Linked DNA regions of Homo sapiens. The protein of the gene in region 1 interacts with the protein of each later gene in a pairwise test. Each region holds a gene or a part of one and is shown on either strand. Other genes may lie near its edges.

The links. The genes of interacting proteins can lie anywhere in the genome.
Region 2: the proteins of ARHGEF16 (region 1) and MAPK1IP1L interact in binary tests that used the Homo sapiens proteins (3 or more experiments, as listed by UniProt).
Region 3: the proteins of ARHGEF16 (region 1) and BOLL interact in binary tests that used the Homo sapiens proteins (3 or more experiments, as listed by UniProt).

What each region holds. Positions count from the first base shown.
Region 1 is NC_000001.11:3,457,665-3,464,689, reverse strand, and holds part of ARHGEF16 (rho guanine nucleotide exchange factor 16), read right to left. Parts: exon of another isoform or gene 5,191-7,025; coding exon of another isoform or gene 5,159-5,190; intron 1,625-5,158; coding exon of another isoform or gene 1,606-1,624; coding exon 1,018-1,605; intron 1-1,017. UniProt on the Homo sapiens protein: Guanyl-nucleotide exchange factor of the RHOG GTPase stimulating the exchange of RHOG-associated GDP for GTP. May play a role in chemotactic cell migration by mediating the activation of RAC1 by EPHA2.
Region 2 is NC_000014.9:55,054,647-55,061,671, reverse strand, and holds part of MAPK1IP1L (MAPK-interacting and spindle-stabilizing protein-like), read right to left. Parts: intron 518-7,025; exon of another isoform or gene 501-517; coding exon of another isoform or gene 499-500; intron 1-498.
Region 3 is NC_000002.12:197,726,365-197,733,319, forward strand, and holds the end of BOLL (protein boule-like), read right to left. Parts: intron 2,215-6,955; coding exon 2,191-2,214; coding exon of another isoform or gene 2,103-2,190; 3' UTR 526-2,102; downstream 1-525. UniProt on the Homo sapiens protein: Probable RNA-binding protein, which may be required during spermatogenesis. May act by binding to the 3'-UTR of mRNAs and regulating their translation.

The DNA of each region.
Region 1 (7,025 bases):
ACAGCACCTGCCCCCGCCCTCGTCCTTCACTGAGGCAGCCCATATGCTTGGGGCCTGTTTTCCAACACGTCTGAGCAAGGCGCCCAACAAGAAGGACGCCCCTGGGGCCAGCCCTGCATCTGCTCTGCATTCTTGAGGGTGCTCGGGCTGCCAGGGCCTCCTGATGGGCGGTTCCAGGGCAGCTCGCCTCCCCTACCCCAGCCCTGCCTGAGCCCAGACCCACCAGCTAAAGAGACCAAGCAGGGTGGCCAGAGTCGCAGTCCTGGCTGGGTGGGTGTCCAGGTACCACGCAACTCTCCCTGAACGTGGCTTCCAGCTCCAGGGCTGCCTGAAATGAAGGCCTGGCCCCCAGCCGCAGGGGATGGTGACTCCGAGGATGAGGGACACTGGGCCCAGGAGCCCCAGCTGGACGCTCTGTCCCCTGGGCCCTAGTGACACATGCAGTCAGGCTACACCCTGCCCAGCAAAGGGTCTGCCGCCACCATGCCCCAGACCTAGAGCCACCACCAGCAGGCAGGGAAGCAGGGCTCTGTGTACAGAGGGAATGTGCAGACTTCTCCTAAGCCCCAGGCCACCGCACAGCTGCCCCGCTTCAGTCCCTCCCGCCTGAGTCCCTGTCTGGAGCTGCCGGGGCAGATGGAGCCCAGGCCAGTCACTGCAGCCAGGTCACCCTGAACCCTATCATCCAGGCAGGCCGGCTCCTGTCCAGAGCTCGGAAACAGGGACTGGGCCCTTCCAGGGATCTGCCCTCCACCAAGGCTGGGAGCGGGGACACCAGAGTCTGGGGGCCTCGGTAGAACCCTCGACCTTTCCGAGCCTCTGCTGCCTCATCTGTAAGGTGGGATCTTCACACTCACAGACTGGGCTGAACTGGAATAAACCAGTCGAGAGCCCTCATGCAGCAGGTGCTTACTAACGGCAGCTGCCATGATGCAGAAGATGACGGTGGTGGAGACGGCCAGGCCGCCCCTCTGCCTAGCAGCCCCCTCCCCACGGTCCACACGAGCAGGCCCCTACCTTGTTTTTGGCCGGGCTCCGAGTATGAGGCTGGCTGGGTTCCTCAGCCAGAGCCTGGAGCTTAGGGCTTAGCTGGATGGCATCTCCCTGGCCACCTGGCTTCCCCAGGCCCTTCATGGCCGCCCGGTAGGATTGGTTCCGCAGGTTCCGCCTCAGCATGCCCCCGGGGTCCTTGTCCACGTCCATGTCATCCAGGGAGAAGCTGGGGGCTGGGAGGAGCTTAGGGTCCCGCCGGGCGGCCTCCCTGCTAAGTACAGCCGCCCCGAAGCTCTGGTGGCGGGCTGGGGTCTTTGCCTTGCTGGCCACAGCCAGGCTCTTAGGGATCAGCTGTTGGGTGCCCAGCTTGAGGGCCGCCGGGCTCTCTGTGCTCAGGACGATGGGCCATGGCTCCTCGTGCCCCGGGGGCCGAGGCTGTGGGGGTGCCGGGACCTGGGGCTGGAAGGCGGCATCGTCTCTAACACGCGGGGAGCCACGGACCATTGGGAGCCCGGAGGCTGGGTTCCCCCCGGCATCGAGCCGGAGCTCCGAGTGGAAGCGGTGTCCCAGGAGCTTCTCCTCCAAGGAGCTGTCTGAGTGCCGCTGGGCCATGCTGGGCGGCTGTGGGGTCCTGGGGGAAGGGCAGAAGTGAGGTCTCGTGAGGCTGCTCTCCCCTGCCCCCGCGGGTGTCCACCCCCCTACCCCTTTGCATATGTCTGGCCGGGGCTCCAGTACAGCTCCCAGGACACAGCAGGCAAGGACAGCGACGCAGCCAGGAGCACAGTGGATCAGTGGCACAGCCAGTCCTGACCACTGGGAGCCAGCCATGTCTGAGGCCGGAGGCTGGACACAGGATGGGACTGGGCAGGCGCTGGTTCTCCGAGCTCCAAGGGACCAGGTGGGCACAGCCTATGGGGGTAGGCTGGACCTTGGAGGTTGGGAGGCCACACTGCTTCCTCTGATGGGCAGCACGCACTGAGGACACATTCCTGAGCCTGGAGGCAGGTGGGGCAGCTCAGGTGCATGGCCCTGGAGCCCTGAAGACCTGGCCTGGAATCCTGGCTCACACCTGGCAGCCATGCAGCCTCCTGGAACCACTTCCTCGTGGTGAACGCAAGGGTCATGGCGTTGCACTGGGGGGCTTCCTGAGGCCGGCATCAGCCACAGCGGCAGTGACCACAGCCTCTGCCTCATTGGGGTCTTCCAGGCACCTGAGCCAGGCTCTGCTGGGTTGGGGGGAGGGCAGGTGCATTTGCCCACATGCTCCCGGCCCGAGCCCAGGCCTGTGTGATTCCCCTCTCTTAGCCACACAGTGATATGACTGTCGCGGACTGTCCATGGAACCTTTCCACACACCAGGCAACACGCTTGCATTTTTCCACGTTTCTGAACTGGGCATAAAGCTGACAATTCTGGTCTCAGGAGCCCCACCAGTCACCAGCCCGAGAGTCCAGTATGACACCTGGCCACTGGGCAGGTGTGGTGGTGGCAGGGGTGGCAGCCCACAGTCCCACGTACACCCCCCAGCAGAGAGCGGGAGCTGCCCTGTAGACATCTCTGTAGCCCGATCCCCACACCCCGTGGGCTGCCCCGCCCCCGCCACACTCCTGCCCGCCCCTCCTGGCAGCGCGTGCCCCCGAGCCCATCTCTACCCCACTGTTCCCTTCATGGTCCGGGGCTGGCACCCTGCCCCTGACACTACTGCTTCCCATTTCTCACTTTCCTCCTTCCAGACCCGAGGCAGGGCTGCCCTTCTGCCCCTTGGGAATGGCACAGTCCTGAGACTGGCTTTGGGACATACGTGCCTGCCAGGTAGGAATGTGGAGAGCCAGCTCTCGACCTGCCTCTGCGTCTTCCCTGGCTGCCATGACTATAGGCACGCGTGGCCAGGCAGAGCCTCAATGGCCTGGACCCCGTGTGACCGAGATGTGCAGAGCCCCCAGCCGACACGGCCTCCAGGAGCCGGGCCCAGAGGTCTGTTTCCAGGCACTTTGCGGGGCTGTTGTGGCTACACATCACCTCCTGAGTGACGGCGCATTGCTCGGCCACAGCGGTCAGGCCCACAGTGAGCTTTCACGCCCCGGGCTGCTTGCAACCCCCCTGGGCACTTGCAACCCTCAGGCCACTGAGCAATGGATTCCGAGGGTCTGGTCTCTCAGGCCTCCCAGCTTTCCCCTCTGCTGCTCAGGGGCTCCCCACACGTGTCAGGGAGCAGCCCTGACCCAGGCATGTGGTCAATGAGCAAGTGACGCTGCCTCTCCGTGCCTCAGTTTCAAAATCTGCAAAATGGGCATGATAAGAGCAAGGCCCACCTCCTGAAGGTACGGTGGGAAGTGTAAAGCGTGCAAAGCGTGTAACAGGCCTGGCCGGTGTGAGGCCTGCGTCTGCGCCGCAGTGACCAAGGCCTTGCCGAATCACAGACAAGCTCATGCTCCCTATGCTCAGGGAGCTTCGTAGGTTCAAAAGGTAACGACATGGAGAAAACTCGCTGCTTTCATTCTTTCCCTTTTAAAAAATAAAGATAAAAACAATAACCACCACCACTCAGTATGCCTCCTATACACCCAGAACGTCACACACATGAAAATGACCGGAGTCTCTTGCGGGTGGAAACTGATTTTTCTGATGGGAAAACAAGGCTGAGTCACTCGCCCAAAGTCACTTCCTGCAGGGAGGTTGCCTACAGTCAGCCACACAACTGACCTGGATTAGCACCTTTGGAGTGTCCACAGGGCACCTGGGACACCCCTCTGTCCCTGCTCAGCCCCGGGAGCCACCAAACTCTCCCAGGACACAAATTCTCTGCTAAAACCATCCCAGGAAGGCACGTGCGGCTGAGCCTCCCAGGCCCCAGGGAGGGACGGCCCCCACGCTGGCCGGGAGGGTACATTCCTCAGGACATTCCAAATCACTGGTCAAGGACAGCGGCAGACACAACAGGCCTCCCCCGGGGCTGGTGTCCATGACACTGACCAGAGTGACGCTGGTCTGCACCATCCCAGGATCACCCGCTCACAGTAGGGTGTCTGCGTTTTACCCAGGCCCGGCCGAGAAATCCATTTCTTTTAGGCTTCTGTCTACACGCCAAGCAGAGCACACTCCAGTGGGTGGCCAGCGTAGGCGGTCTACGGCCCTGCGGTCCTTTTATTCTAAATGTGATGACTTTACCTGGGGGGCATTTGATGTGGGTTGACATGCCCACAACATCACTGTGCCCCATCTCCCACCAAACAAATGTCCCCAAGACCCCACAGCCCCCAAATACAGAGACCCCAGCCTGCACTGTCTCAACCTTCTGACTCTCATAGAGGCCTTCCTCCTTCCTAATGGGGCCAGACTGCCCAGGCCTGACTGTCCCTGACCACGTCCTCTGAGACGGTGTCCTGGCCCTGGCTGGCAGCAGCTGTCCCAGGAGAGATCAAAGTCTGCTCCACTGCCAGAAGGCGCCCAAACGGGAACCTGTCAGGCGAGCCAGAGCCTGAGCCATTGCTGGGTGTGACCTCCGCTCCCAGCGAGGCAGCCGCACCCACAGGCCTAACAGAGAGCCTGAGGGGTGTGGGCAGTCCAGAGCCCCCCAGGAGCCGGCTCTCGGGAGCTGTGGCCCTGGCAGGCACCCGTTGCCTTCTGTTTTTCAGTTTTTCTAAAGAACTATGAAGACACAGACACCGTTTCAAAAGTCAACGAGCACCAAAGACTTAGCATGAAAACCCAGCGTCCCCTCTTCCACACTGCCCTGATCCCCGGAGGCCACTGCTCTGGGCTCCTCAGCTTTTCCCAGAAAAAGGCACAGCCTGCTCTCAGTGACCCCCACCTATGGGCATTCCTACCCCCTCCCTGCCTGTTGGACGAGGACTCCATCACGGCTGGCCCCATCACACGATGCCTGTGCCGGCAGAAGGCGCTGAGCCCCAGGGCAGGGCCTTGTCCACGTCCTGTTAATGATTTTCTCTCATTTGACCAGCCTGGTTTCCCCAGTTAATTTTTCCCTGAGTGTTCTGGCGTCTCTGCCATGTGCTTCTTGAGAATATATTCTATATGTCTGGCAGGCCAGCTCAGTGTTTTTCCCAGACACCCCCCGTCCTCCCTCTCCAGAGGGCCCAGTGCTCTGGGCCTCACCCTGGGCGGATCCCAGGACCTCCTCTGCTGCTTCCGGGGCCCCTCTCACCTGCTCCCGGCCCTCATTGCCCTGAAGGACATCCCCAGGCACTGTCCCAGGAAGCCACATGGGAGCCATCTTTTGGACTGCCTGAAAATGTCTTGTTTCTTCCTCTCCCCTGACTGGTGAGGAGATGAGCATTCCCACTGTAGATGGTTTTCTCCCAGAGTCGGGCAGCGCCCTTCCCTTGTTGTCAGAGTTGCTGGGGAAGGGCCCCAATGTCCCGATCTCTTTCTCGGATCACAACCGGTGTGTGGTTCTCCCTGGCCCCACTGAGGGTCTGGCGCACCTGCTGGAGCCTGGGAGCTCTGGCTGTCTTGCTGATGTGCCTCGGTAGGGTCCGTGTTCGTTCACTGAGCCAGCCTGGGAGCTCTGATTGTCGTGCTGATGTGCCCCCGTAGGGTCCATGTTAGTCCACTGAGCCAGGCACTGGGTGGAACCCTGCCAGGCGGTCACTCTTGTCTAGGGCTGCGCAGATTTTCATATTATTTCTTCCACTCTGTTTTCTCTTTTTGGAATACCCACTAATGAGTATTAAGCTCTGGTGTTTTCTCCTAATTCCTTACCTTTCCTCCCCTACTTTGTTCTCTGTGTGAGGTTTTCTCTACTTGGACTTCTTATTGGCCCCTGGTCTTATCATTTTCATTATCCTCAAAGAGCCCTCTGCTCTTCATTCCTGGCATCCTGCTCTTGCTTTATGGGTGTAACATCTTCTATTGTCTTAGAGAGGAAGGATTACATTTTCTTTGGAGCGAGTTTCTTTCTTTCTGTCGCTGGCTGCTGGAGCTGCGCCCCTGCCACATACTTCCTCCTGTCTCCGCCTCTGCTGGCCTCTGTCTCTCAGGCACAGGGCTTTCCTCAAACATCTGCTGCTGGTGGTTGATTGTTTCTGCTTCTATTGAGGAGACAGGCCTTATGATGGCGGGAGGTCCAAGTGCACACACCCTGAGCACAGGTGTCTGACCGGGAGGGCCCAATGGGACCCCCAGCCCCATGCCAGGTCCATATCCTGAAGCCTGTCCTGCAGGCCGGCTGGTTTCTACAGTGGCCTCTTTCCATTTCCTCACTGAGATGCTGGTCGGCTCCTGGTGGAGCCAGTGAAGGGGAGGGGCTGAGAGGGCAGACTCCTTTCAGCAGCTGGCCATGCTGTCCCGGCTGCAGTGCCACAGAGAGAGGTCAGATTTCCTGCAGCAGCCACGTGGGCCAGTGGCAGATCTGCTCCCCAGCAAAGGCAGCCCTGACTTGCTGAGTGGGGGCTTAGCACAGGGCATGCACAGGGCAGAGGGAGCCGCAGGCTGGCTGGCTGGCTGTCCTGTCTCCCCATGTCTGTGAGCCCTTGCGGGGCAGGGACAGTTTCCTGTTCGTGTCCCCACAGTCGGGCTCAGATTCCACACTGAAGAGCAAATGCCTGCCTCGGCACGTGCTCTGCCCTGGTCTCCTAGTACCTTGATTCTGTGTCTTCCCAGAGAGGCCCTGGTGTTCCGTGCCAAGAACCAACTTGCAAGGGGACTTGGCTCAAAATGAGCAGAGGCTGGGCCAGGGCAGCCCCATAGAGGTTCTGGGCCCATCTGTGCCACTTTTTGGGCGACTTCCTGCTGCTTCTCCTCAGGGTGGGCTGGAAAGGACCTCCCATGGCTGAGCCCTGGGGCCCAGAACTCTCTCTTTTCTCTTTACCACTAAATACCCCACCTGGTATCCCCAACACATATAGTTATGGGGCATGAGGGACTTGCCAGGAGGAGGCGTGCAGCAGAGGCGAGCAGGCGGAATCCATGGTCTCTGGGCAGTCTCAGGGGCCCCCGCCTGGCCGGTCCAAGCAGGTGGAATCTGTGGTCGCTGGCCAGTCTCAGGGCCCCCTGCCCAGCCTGTCCGTTCC
Region 2 (7,025 bases), on another chromosome or scaffold:
AGAAAAGAAATGAAGGAAGAAAGAAAAATTTCAAAATCAGTGTTCACCATTTCTTAAATATTCCTTAAGGAACTTTCTATGCATACATTATTATTACTTAAGCGGAATCTTATTTATGTAATGTGTTTTTCTTTACATAGGAAAGTTTTCCATAATAGTTCATACAGCTCTATTAACTTCATCCCTTTTAATGGCTGCACATCATACAAAAATGATTTGCAATTTAATTTACCTTCTTTTTGTAGCAGTATAAGTTGTTTTAAGTATGATACAGTGAACATCTCTCAACACTTCTTTGTTTGTGTGTGAGAATCTAACACCAGGAAAAAGCACTGGACATGGAATTTAGAGTCAACAGATAAATTTATCTAAAATCCATTTGAAAAGTCCATGCCAATTTACACTCATTTCTCTAACTCCTTTTACCACTGGATATTATTAAATTTATTGTTTATAATGACAATAGATATTAAAAATTAGCGTCTTATTTTAACTTACATTTCCTCGTCTTTTTTTTGGAGACAGGGTCTCATTCTGTCACCCAGGCTGGAGTGCAGTGGCGAGAGAGATCACAGCTCACTGCAATCTTGACCTCCTGGGCTCAAGTCATCTTCTTGCCTCAGTCTCCCTAATAGCCGGTACTACAGGTGTGTGCCATCATGCCCAGCAAATTTCTTAAAATTTTAAAAATTTATTGCAGAGACAGGTGTCTCACTATGTTGCCCAGACCCGGTCTCAAACTCCTGGGATCAAAGGACCCTCCTGCCTCAGCCTCCCAAAGTATTGGGATTATAGCCATGAGCCACTGTGTGTACTCCCAAATTTAAATTTATTGATGTCCTGGAGTACTTTTACCAATTTTTAAATTGAAGTGTAATTAGCACTCAACAAAATGCAGAGATCTTAAGTGTTCAGATTAACAAGCTCTGATAATTGTATACGCCCCTATAACCACCCCAAGATACAGAACATTTCTCACTCCAGAAAGTTTACTCATGCTCTTTTCCAATCAACTACCTTGCCTCATGGCAGTCAATTTTTGACTTAATTTTGCTTGTTCTTTGACTTTATATAAATAAAAGACTGTAGGTACTCTTTGCCTTTGATCATTTTATTACTCAGTAGCACATCTTTTTCTCTCACTGCTTTGTAAGATACTAAGCAGACTAGCTTTCATATATGAGATTAAAATTTTTTGGCCGGGTGCAGTGGCTCACGCCTATAATCCCAGCACTTTGGGAGGCCGAGGCAGGCGGATCACGAGGTCAAGAGATCGAGACCATCCTGGCTAACACGGTGAAACCCCGTCTCTACTAAAAATACAAAAAAACGATTAGCCCAGTGTGGTGGCGGGTGCCTGTAGTCCCAGCTACTTGGGAGGCTGAGGCAGGAGAATGGCATGAACCTGGGAGGCGGAGCTTGCAGTGAGCCGAGATTGCGCCACTGCACTCCAGCCTGGGCAACGGAGGGCTACTCCATATCAAAAAAAAAAAAAAAAAAAAAAAAAAAAAAAAAAATTTCTCCAAAATTCCTTTTATCTGTAGATCTCTTAAAGGGCATATTTTGGTTATACAAAAGTTTTAAATTTCATGTCATCAAATCTATCAATGTTTTCCTATACGTGGCTTCTGGATTTTGTGATATATTTACAAAGGCCTTCCCTACTCTGCCTTGCTTTCATATAGTATTTTTATGGTTTAACTTCTTGTTTAAAACCTTTAAATTCTTCCAAACAATAATTATCAACTATCTATCTTTTCTCAGCTAATTGGACAAGCTACCTTTACTACACTATACTGCTGCCATTTATAACTAGCATCTATCCAATATTTACCATGAAACATGGAACATGGTGGTGTACTGTGCACCACCTCACTTGGTAGCTCCAGAACCCAGATACAAATTTTATTTTCACCCCCAGTTTACAGCTGGAGAAGAGGAAGCTTGGCAAGTTAACTTGTTTAAGGTCCCAGAGCTAATGACAAGGAGAGAAGCAGTTCAAACCCAGTATGACTCCAGAACTTAGGCTCTTAACAAGCAGGCTATAGAGCCTCCTTCATTTCCCACAGATATTGTGGACTTTATTCTTTTCTTTTTGAAACAGTCTTGCTTTGTTCCCTGGCCAGAGTGCAGTGGCACCATCATAAGCTCACTGCAGACTCGACCTTCTGGGCTCAATCGATCCTGCCCAGCTAGTTTTTTTGTAGAGATGGAGTTTCACCATGTTGCCCAGGCTGGTCTTGAACTCCGGAGCTCAAGTGATCTGCCTGCCTCGGCCTCCCAAAGTCTTGGGATTACAGGCGTGAGATACTGTGCCCAGCTGACTTTATTCTTTTCTACTGGTCTGCAACTGTACCATTCCATTTTAATTACAGAAGCTTTACAATATATTTTAAATAAACATTAATGTGAGTCACCCTACTGTCTTTTTTTTTTTTTTTTTTTTCAGATTTTCCTATGTATTTTTATTTTTTCCAGATCGTTAAAAAAAAAAATTAATGTGTTAGCATTCTGGTTGGAAATGTATTATATTTACAGATTAATCTAGGGGAACATCTATTTAAAATGTCAAATCATCTCGTTCAAGAACAAGGTATAGTATAGTCCCTCGGTACCTGAGGGAGATTGGTTCTAGGACCCCCATAGATACTCAAATCCCAGGATGCTCAAGTACCTGATATAAAATGGTGTAGTATTTGCATATAACCTATGCACATCTTCCCGTATAAATCATCTCTATATTATTTATAATACTTAAAAGTGTGAATACTATATAATTATATTAACTTATATTTTCTATGGTTATTTTTATTGTTTCCCCCAAGTATTTTTTTTTTTTTGAGACAGGGTCTCACTCTGTTGCCCAGGCTAGAGTGCAATAGCATGATGTCAGCTCACTGCAACCTCCATCTCCTGGGTTCAAGAGATTCTCCTGCCTCAGCCTCCTGAGTAACTGGGATTATAGGCAAGCGCCGCCATGCCCGGCTAATTTTTTGTATTTTTAATAGAGACAGGGTTTCACCACGTTGGCCAGGCTGCTCTTGAACTCCTGGCCTCACGTGATCCGCCCGCCTCAGCCTCCCAAAGTGCTGGGATTACAGGCATGAGCCACCGCACCCGGCTCCCTGAATATTTTCTACCCGCAAATGCAGACACAGAGGACTGTTTAGTTCCTGTCCTTTTCATGTAGTTTATTTTCTTGATCAGATCTCCTATATACATTTCTTTTAAGGGATTTCTGTTAAACTTTTCCCTGTGGTTGTAAATAGGCTCTTTTCTTCTACTGTATTTTCTAATTGTTCGTTCATATATGGGACAGGGTTTTAAAATTTTAGTCTATAGCAGGTCCTCGAAAGACGTTTCATTCAACTTTGTTTTGTTATAATGTTGATGAGAAGAAAAAACAAAAAGTCTCAGCTGAGGTCACTGTCTGTGTGAAGCTGGCTCATTCTCCCATCTTTATGGGTCTTCTCCAAGTACTCCAGTTTCCTCCCATATCCCAAAGATGCACATGAATGGATGTGTCTACGCGGCCCAGTCTGTGAGCGTGGGTGTAGGTGAGAGCACCCTGTGCTGGGATGGCGTCCAGTTCAGGGCTGGTTCCCAACTTGGACTCTGAATTGCCAAGAAAGGCTCCAGCCATTGAGACCCTGAACTGGAAGAGGGAGGCAAATAATTATCTTTTTATTAATCTTTCTTAAATGTATACACAGCTCACATTCATTCAATTTTTTTTTGAGACAGGGTCTTGCTCTGTCACCGAGGCTGGAGTGCAGTGGTGTGATCACAGCTCACTGCAACCTCCACCTCCCAGGCTCAAGTGGATCCTCCCACCTTAGCCTTTGAGTAGCTGGGACCATAGGCATGCTAATTTTTAAAATTTTTAGTAGAAATCATTTAAATTTTTTTTTTTTTTTGAGATGGAGTCTCGCTCTGTCGCCAGACTGGAGTGCAGTGGCGCGATCTTGGTTCACTGTAACCTCCGCCTCCTCAGTTTAAGCGATTCTCGTGCCTCAGTCTCCTGAGTAGCTGGGACTACAGGTGCGGGCCACTACACCCACTAATTTTTGTATTTTTAGTAGAGACGGGGTTTCACCATGTTGTCCAGGATGGTCTCCATCTCTTGACCTTGTGATCCGCCCACCTTGGCCTCCCAAAGTGCTGGGATTACAGGCGTGAGCCACTGCGCCCAGCTCATTTAAATGTTTAATACTAGAAGTGTTTTGGGTTTTATTTAAAAGTTTAGTGATGTTTTTGTTACCAGAAATATGCCATAGGAATTTAACTCTTCTTTATATTAATTAACCTAGGGTAGGAAGCATCATTACTGAATTATTTTATTCTTCAAAGTTTCTCACTTGATTCTCTGGTATTTCCAGATAAAAAATACGCCATTTGCAAAAAATAACTTTCCTTCTCTAATATTTATGCATCTTTTCTGTTTTGCACTTGCTAGGACTTAAATAATGAAATGTTGAGTGATAGTGGGCACAGAGGTCTTGCTCCAACTCTCCTGGGAATGCTAATGTTTAAGTATGATTCCCATTTTTAGTTTGAGATTTTAAAAAATTACATTATTTTTAATTTATGCCTATGCTATTATTTATTCCTATTCTGTTAATAAAGAAAGCAAGAAGACATTAAATTCCCTCAAAAGACTTTTCAGTATCTAATGAATTGATCTCATGCTTTTTCTCCTTTGACCTATCAATACAGTATTAACATAGAGCCACCTTTGTATTCTTAGCATCTTATTTCTAATTATGATTTGATTATCATGAGGAAAGGACAAGAACATAAAGGACAAGAACCCAAGCCTATCCCAACTGCTATATCCTTTTTATTCAGAATATCAAAAAACATGGCCGGGCGCGGTGGCTCACGCCTGTAATCCCAGCACTTTGGGAGGCCGAGGAGGGCGGATCACGAAGTCAGGAGATTGAGACCATCCTGGCTAACAAGGTGAAACCCCGTCTCTACTAAAAATACAAAAAATTAGCCAGGCATAATGGTGGGCACCTGTAGTCCCAGCTACTCAGGAGGCTGAGGCAAGAGAATGGCGCGAACCCAGGAGGCGGAGCTTGCAGTGAGCTGAGATCAAGCCACTGCACTCCAGCCTGGGTGACAGTGCAAACTCCGTCTCAAAAACAAAAAAACAAAAAAACCCACATACAACCCATTCCCATGTTAAGGTTTAACGTCAATCACATCACACAATAAAATTTTTAGGACTAACAGTGTAGAAAATATACGGTAAGTTGTAAGGCTAACATGCTTTTTAAACAGGGTTAGCCTTTCTGAAATAGAAAATGATTCTGTATCAAAGTTCATATTAATTCTGGAGTTGAGAATCAAAGTGAACCAAATGGCCTTGACTGTTCAGGTTTTCAGAATTATACAGTTACCTAGTCATGGAATTACATAAATTATTCTACAAGTTAATAATATTCAACTGATTCACAACACTACTTCAAAATTTTAAAGTTCAAAATCCAAGTCTGGAAGATAGGGGAGGTGCTAGAATCTTGTGATTAAAAAACAAAGCCCTAAGCATAGGAATTAGTAACAAGTTCTGTTCTACGGCACTGTCTTAGTAAAGTGACCAGCTCTCCATTCCTAGAATAAACAGCGTTCATGTTAGGGTGATCCCCCCTTATCTGTGGTTTTAATTACCTAAGGTCCGAACATATTAAATGAAAAATTCCAGAAATAAATAATTCGTAAGTTTTTTGTTTTGTTTTTGAGATGGAGTCTCGCTCTGCCACCCAGGCTAAAGTGCAGTAGTGTGATCTTGACTCACTGCAACCTCCGCCTCCCAGGTTTAAGTGATTCTCCTACCTGAGCCTCTCAAGTAGCTGGGATTATAGGCACGTGCCACCACGCCCGGCTAATTTTTAATTTTTGGTAGAGACGGGGTTTCACCATGTTGGCCAGGCTGGTCTCAAACTCCTGGCCTCAAGTAATCCGCCCACCTCAGTCTCCCAAAGTGCTGGGATTAGGCATGAACCACTGCACCTGGCCAATTCCTAAGTTTTAAATGGGGCAAGAGCATGTTCTGAGTAGCAAAATGAAAGTTTGCCCCCTCCTGCCTAGGACGTGAATCATCCCTTTGTCCAGTGTATCCATGCTGTATACGCTATCAGCCCATCTTGGTTATTAGATCTAAAAAACATGGTATACTTAGGCTTCGGCAGTGTATACAGACTTCAGTTTCAGGGATTCATTGGGGAGTCTTGCAATGTGTCCCCCTAGGATAAGGGGGAACAACTATAATTGGAAGCATTCCAATTTGTTCTTTGGAGAATACTTTCATTAGAAAAGGTGAAAAACAGTTGGACATGAACGTTTCAATATGAGGAGAGTTGCAGAACATAAAAAGTTTAGGTTTTCTAAAAAGCTATTCTAAGCCGCGCTTGGTAGTGTGCACCTGTAATCCCAGCTTCTCAGGAGGCTGAGGTGGGAAGACCGCTTGAGGCCAGTAGTTAAGAGACCAGCCTGGGCAATATTAGTGGCACTCTGTCTCAAAAAGAAAAATAAATAAAAATATAAAGCTATTCCAAAATATCTGAATCATCGCTAATTATTAAGATGAGGCCAATGTAACCTTGAACTCATAAAAACAATTTATACTCAAGAAAGGCTTTCTTTTTTTTCTTTTTGGAATAATCTAAAGCTATTATTTCCAAAACTTTGTTACCATTTTATAGCATGATCCACCCATCATCTGAAAAACAATACTTTTTATTCTTTGAATAGCAAGAATAGTAATTTTAAAACAGTACAAAATGTCTTTTGACATACACTAGAAAAGTAAAACATAACATTTTTGGAAACTCTCATGGCTGTTAGGGTAAAAATCATGGGTCAGGGAGGAGGGTGGTTAAGAGAGTTGAACTCCATGAATTACCAGTGGAGTTCATGGATATTTCAGACAGCCTTCAAATTGTGATGGAGTGATAAACAGTATGGGACTACACAGTGATGAAACCCGGACATGAATCCTTTTGACGGTTATCTTTTGACAA
Region 3 (6,955 bases), on another chromosome or scaffold:
CAGCACTTTGGATGGCCAAAGTAGGAAGATCACTTGAGCCCAGGAGTTTGAGACCAGCTTGGGGAACCTAGTAAGACCCTGTCTCTACAAAAAATAAAAAATTAGCTGGGTGTGGTGGTGCATGCCTGTAATCCTAGCTACTAGGGAGGCTGAGGTGAAAGGATGGCTTAAGCCCAGGAGTTTGAGGTCACAGTGAGCCATGATCGCATAACTGCATTCCAACCTGGGCCCCAGAGCAAGACAGTCTCTTAAAAAAAAAAAAAAAAAAAAAAAAAGTAACATGTTTGGGCTATTAAGCTAGGCCATGAAGAAGGCTGTATGATATCCTCCATTTATTCAGATTGTCAAACTCCCAAAATTTTTAGTAGCTTCTCAAAATAAAGCTAAATTCTAAGAAAGTGCATATGTATAAATTATATATGTGTGTGTATATATGCATATAAACATGTATATATGTGTATGCATATAATCTATATAGTTGTGGAAGAAACACACTTGGGTATCAATTATCATCAAAATTCCTTATCCAATAATACATAATTAATTTTTATTAACAGTCCAGGATTTGTTTAGCATCTTGTTTAACATTTGAAAATCAAAACATAAACTTTTTGGTTCTCAAGGATAGTGCTATTAAAAGAAAATCTTGAACATCAGTGGTTAGTAATTTTTTACTTACAGAACAAAAACTTCTGAAATTTCATTGTGGGACTTAATCTATTTACATTCCTAAAACTGAGAATAATTAATGTATTTGAGATCCTTGTATGCTAGTATACATTCATAAGGTTCTACTGTTCTCATGAAGCCATTTGACTGGCAAACATATTCATTACAGTTTCAAAAGAAAACACCCTATTTGACTCACCAGAAAAACCTTTGTGATCTATATCCTACTATTTCTGCTGCTGCTGCTGAGCATGGAATACATGTGGGGTTGAAACAGGGGAGGAAAGAGATAGATTTATTAGGGTAATACCAACTTTTATGGCTCCCCCTGCCCCCTCCACCTAAAATTAGGAGGTCAGTGAAAGAACTGCAAATGAATGTAAAGAGGAATATTTCCTGTACTACTGTAGAAATTTTAGAGATTAAAAACCCCTATGATTTGTTCTGTACCTTTTGAACAATGAATGACACCCCTCCCATCTATTTTCCAATTTTATAGTAAAAATCGGATTTAGAATCAGAATCTAAAATTTTCCTTTGGTGTAAAAAATAGTTTTGCATTTTATGAAAACAATTGTCCTTTTAAAAATTAATCACATATATAATTGAATATATTGGTTGCATATCAGAAGAAAAGGTTTAAGGATTAAAGCATTCAAAGAACAGTAATTTGGTGGAATTTCAGTCAGTGTTATGGGATCATGTCAGAGATGAACCCTTTTATCAAAATTCCAAAGGTGGATCCATATTTTATAAAATTTGATACCAAATAAATTATGTTATAGGAAGATTTCAATATTGTCTCAAACACTGGAGAAAAAATTTAATATAGTCAAATTACATGAAAAGGCAAGAATACTGATCATGTTGATGGTATTTCTAATATTTGGAAAATGTTATAAAAAAGAAGTATAAATACTATTCAGATTCTGAAAACCATGGCAGACGCAAAATTAAATAAGGAGTAACAGTAATAAATGAATTAAAAATTAGACAAAAGCATATTAAATGACAAAACAGCAAAGCAAAAATAGAATTGTCATTAATATTAAATAGTATACTGTTGTAAAATATATGAAAGTATTAAAAGTATTATAATTAAAAATGATTCTTATCCTAAATATGAAAATAAATATCAAATAATATGAAACATAACATCTAATTGTTTGATAAGAAAAAATAACACAAAGCAGAGAAAATAAAAGACACCTCACTATTCCCAATGTGGTTATTATTTATGGAATGGATAAAACATGTTGTAGAAAAGGTCATTACAGTTAGGTTAGCACATAAAAAACCAACATGCCACATCTACCTAAATAATTTTGTAGAACAGCTGAAAAAGCAAATTTCATCAAATTTAGACAGCTTATAGTGGAATAACTGAGTATGGTGAGGTATTAACTAACACTAAGTTTCACAACGGGCAGCTTCTAGCTGGTTCGTTGAAGCTGGATCTCGGCCACGCAAGGATCATTGGACAAGAAATCAGTTGAGCTGGAATAGAGCTGCCCAATTGTCTTAATAATGAATGCTCCACACTGTCTGTTAAGTAAAGAGAAAATATAGATCAGGAAGACTGAATGGAAAAAAAAAGATAAGTTAGAACAGATGAGTACAGACCATCAATCAACATTCACTAAATATTTGCAGAACCTTGGTACCAATTAAATTAGAATGTTACAAAGTGAGAGGCTAGCAATTTAGGAGGGCTCCAGAACTCAGGAAAACCTGCTCTCTGAGAGCTTAGAATCTATATTAGACAATCTCTAGTCTAGTGTTACAGTATAAATGTTGAGTAAATAAAATGAGGGATGGGTCAGCACAGATTACGAGTTACAACATTTCCTTCTATTAGGTGGGTCTTAAAAACTTGTTTTTAAAAGGGGAATAGTATTTTTGGCAGGAGGCTATTTAGAACGCTGTCCAGGGGAGGAGCCAAGATGGCCGAATAGGAACAGCTCCGGTCTACAGCTCCCAGCGTGAGCGACGCAGAAGACGGGTGATTTCTGCATTTCCATCTGAGGTACCGGGTTCATCTCACTAGGGAGTGCCAGACAGTGGGCGCAGGTCAGTGGGTGCGTGCACCGTGCGCAAGCTGAAGCAGGGCGAGGCATTGCCTCACTTGGGAAGCGCAAGGGGTCAGGGAGTTCCCTTTCTGAGTCAAAGAAAGGGGTGATGGACGGCACCTGGAAAATCGGGTCACTACTGCGCTTTTCCGACGGGCTTAAAAAACGGCGCACCACGAGATTATATCTCGCACCTGGCTCGGAGGGTCCTACGCCCACGGAGTCTCGCTGATTGCTAGCACAGCAGTCTGAGCTCTAACTGCAAGGCGGCAGCGAGGCTGGGGGAGGGGCGCCCGCCATTGCCCAGGCTTGATTAGGTAAACAAAGCAGCTGGGAAGCTCCAACTGGGTGGAGCCCAGCACAGCTCAAGGAGGCCTGCCTGCCTCTGTAGGCTCCACCTCTGGGGGCAGGGCACAGACAAACAAAAAGATCAGTAACCTCTGCAGACTTAAATGTCCCTGTCTGACAGCTTTGAAGAGAGCAGTGGTTTTCCCAGCATGCAGCTGGAGATCTGAGAACGGGCAGACTGCCTCCTCAAGTGGGTCCCTGACCCCTGACCCCCAAGCAGCCTAACTGGGAGGCACCCCCCACCAGGGGCACACTGACACCTCACAGGGCAGGGTATTCCAACAGACCTGCAGCTGAGGGTCCTCTCTGTTAGAAGGAAAACTAACAAACAGAAAGGACATCCACACCAAAAACCCATCTGTACATCACCATCATCAAAGACCAAAAGTAGATAAAACCACAAAGATGGGGAAAAAACAGAACAGAAAAACTGGAAACTCTAAAAAGCAGAGTGTCTCTCCTCCTCCAAAGGAACGCAGTTCCTCACCAGCAACAGAACAAAGCTGGATGGGGAATGACTTTGACGAGCTGAGAGAAGAAGGCTTCAGACGATCAAATTACTCTGAGCTACGGGAGGACATTCAAACCAAAGGCAAAGAAGTTGAAAACTTTGAAAAAAATTTAGAAGAATGTATAACTAGAATAACCAATACAGAGAAGTGCTTAAAGGAGCTGATGGAGCTGAAAACCAAGGCTCGAGAACTACGTGAAGAATGAAGAAGCCTCAGGAGCCAATGCGATCAACTGGAAGAAAGGGTATCAGCGATGGAAGATGAAATGAATGAAATGAAGCGAGAAGGGAAGTTTAGAGAAAAAAGAATAAAAAGAAATGAGCAAAGCCTCCAAGAAATATGGGACTATGTGAAAAGACCAAATCTACGTCTGACTGGTGTACCTGAAAGTGATGGGGAGAATGGAACCAAGTTGGAAAACACTCTGCAGGATATTATCCAGGAGAACTTCCCCAATCTAGCAAGGCAGGCCAACGTTCAGATTCAGGAAATACAGAGAACGCCACAAAGATACTCCTCGAGAAGAGCAACTCCAAGACACATAATTGTCAGATTCACCAAAGTTGAAATGAAGGAAAAAATGTTGAGGGCAGCCAGAGAGAAAGGTCGGGTTACCCTCAAAGGGAAGCCCATCAGACTAACAGCGGATCTCTCGGCAGAAACCCTACAAGCCAGAAGAGAGTGGGGGCCAATATTCAACATTCTTAAAGAAAAGAATTTTCAACCCAGAATTTCATATCCAGCCAAACTAAGCTTCATAAGTGAAGGAGAAATAAAATCTTTTACAGACAAGCAAATGCTGAGAGATTTTGTCACCACCAGGCCTGCCTTACAAGAGCTCCTAAAGGAAGCACTAAACATGGAAAGGAACAACCGGTACCAGCCGCTGCAAAATCATGCCAAAATGTAAAGACCATCGAGACTAGGAAGAAACTGCATCAACTAATGAGAAAAATAACCAGCTAACATCATAATGACAGGATCAAATTCACACATAACAATATTAACTTTAAATGTAAATGGACTAAATGCTCCAATTAAAAGACACAGACTGGCAAATTGGATAAAGAGTCAAGACCCATCAGTGTGCTGTATTCAGGAAACCCACCTCACTTGCAGAGACACACATAGGCTCAAAATAAAAGGATGGAGGAAGACCTACCAAGCCAATGGAAAACAAAAAAAGGCAGGGGTTGCAATCCTGGTCTTGGATAAAACAGACTTTAAACCAACAAAGATCAAAAGAGACAAAGAAGGCCATTACATAATGGTAAAGGGATCAGTTCAACAAGAAGAGCTAACTATCCTAAATATATATGCACCCAATACAGGAGCACCAAGATTCATAAAGCAAGTCCTGAGTGACCTACAAAGAGACTTAGACTCCCACACATTAATAATGGGAGACTTTAACACCCCACTGTCAACATTAGACAGATCAACGAGACAGAAAGTCAACAAGGATACCCAGGAATTGAACTCAGCTCTGCACCAAGCAGACCTAACAGACATCTACAGAACTCTCCACCCCAAATCAACAGAATATACATTTTTTTCAGCACCACACCACACCTATTCCAAAATTGACCACATAGTTGGAAGTAAAGCTCTCCTCAGCAAATGTAAAAGAACAGAAATTATAACAAACTATCTCTCAGACCACAGTGCAATCAAACTAGAACTCAGGATTAAGAATCTCACTCAAAACTGCTCAAATACATGGAAACTGAACAACCTGCTCCTGAATGACTACTGGGTACATAACAAAATGAAGGCAGAAATAAAGATGTTCTTTGAAACCAACGAGAGCAAAGACACAACATACCAGAATCTCTGGGACGCATTCAAAGCAGTGTGTAGAGAGAAATTTATAGCACTAAATGCCCACAAGAGAAAGCAGGAAAGATACAAAATTGACACCCTAACCTCACAATTAAAAGAACTAGAAAAGCAAGAGCAAACACATTCAAAAGCTAGCAGAAGGCAAGAAATAACTAAGAGCAGAACTGAAGGAAATAGAGACACAAAAAACCCTTCAAAAAATTAATGAATCCAGGAGCTGGTTTTTTGAAAGGATCAACAAAATTGATAGACCGCTAGCAAGACTAATAAAGAAAAAAAGAGAGAAGAATCAAATAGACGCAATAAAAAATGATAAAGGGGATATCACCACCGAGCCCACAGAAATACAAACTACCATCAGAGAATACTACAAACACCTCTACGCAAATAAACTAGAAAATCTAGAAGAAATGGATAAATTTCTCGACACATACACTCTCCCAAGACTAAACCAGGAAGAAGTTGAATCTCTGAATAGACCAATAACAGGAGCTGAAATTGTGGCAATAATCAATAGCTTACCAACCAAAAAGAGTCCAGGACCAGATGGATTCACAGCTGAATTCTACCAGAGGTACAAGGAACAACTGGTACCATTCCTTCTGAAACTATTCCAATCAATAGAAAAAGAGGGAATCCTCCCTAACTCATTTTATGAGGCCAGCATCATTCTGATACCAAAGCCAGGAAGAGACACAACAAAAAAAGAGAATTTTAGACCAATATCCTTGATGAACATTGATGCAAAAATCCTCAATAAAATACTGGCAAAATGAATCCAGCAGCACATCAAAAAGCTTATCCACCATGATCAAGTGGGCTTCATCCCTGGGATGCAAGACTGGTTCAATATACGCAAATCAATAAATGTAATCCAGCATATAAACAGAGCCAAAGACAAAAACCACATGATTATCTGAATAGATGCAGAAAAAGCCTTTGACAAAATTCAACAACCCTTCATGCTAAAAACTCTCAATAAATTAGGTATTGATGGGACGTATTTCAAAATAATAAGAGCTATCTATGACAAACCCACAGCCAATATCATACTGAATGGGCAAAAACTGGAAGCATTCCCTTTGAAAACTGGCACAAGACGGGGATGCCCTCTCTCACCACTCCTATTCAACATAGTGTTGGAAGTTCTGGCCAGGGCAATTAGGCAGGAGAAGGAAATAAAGGGTATTCAATTAGGAAAAGAGGAAGTCAAATTGTCCCTGTTTGCAGACGACATGATTGTATATCTAGAAAACCCCATTGTCTCAGCCCAAAATCTCCTTAGGCTGATAAGCAACTTCAGCAAAGTCTCAGGATACAAAATCAATGTACAAAAATCACAAGCATTCTTATACACCAACAACAGACAAACAGAGAGCCAAATCATGAGTGAACTCCCATTCACAATTGCTTCAAAGAGAATAAAATACCTAGGAATCCAACTTACAAGGGATGTGAAGGACCTCTTCAAGGAGAACTACAAACCACTGCTCAACGAAATAAAAGAGGATACAA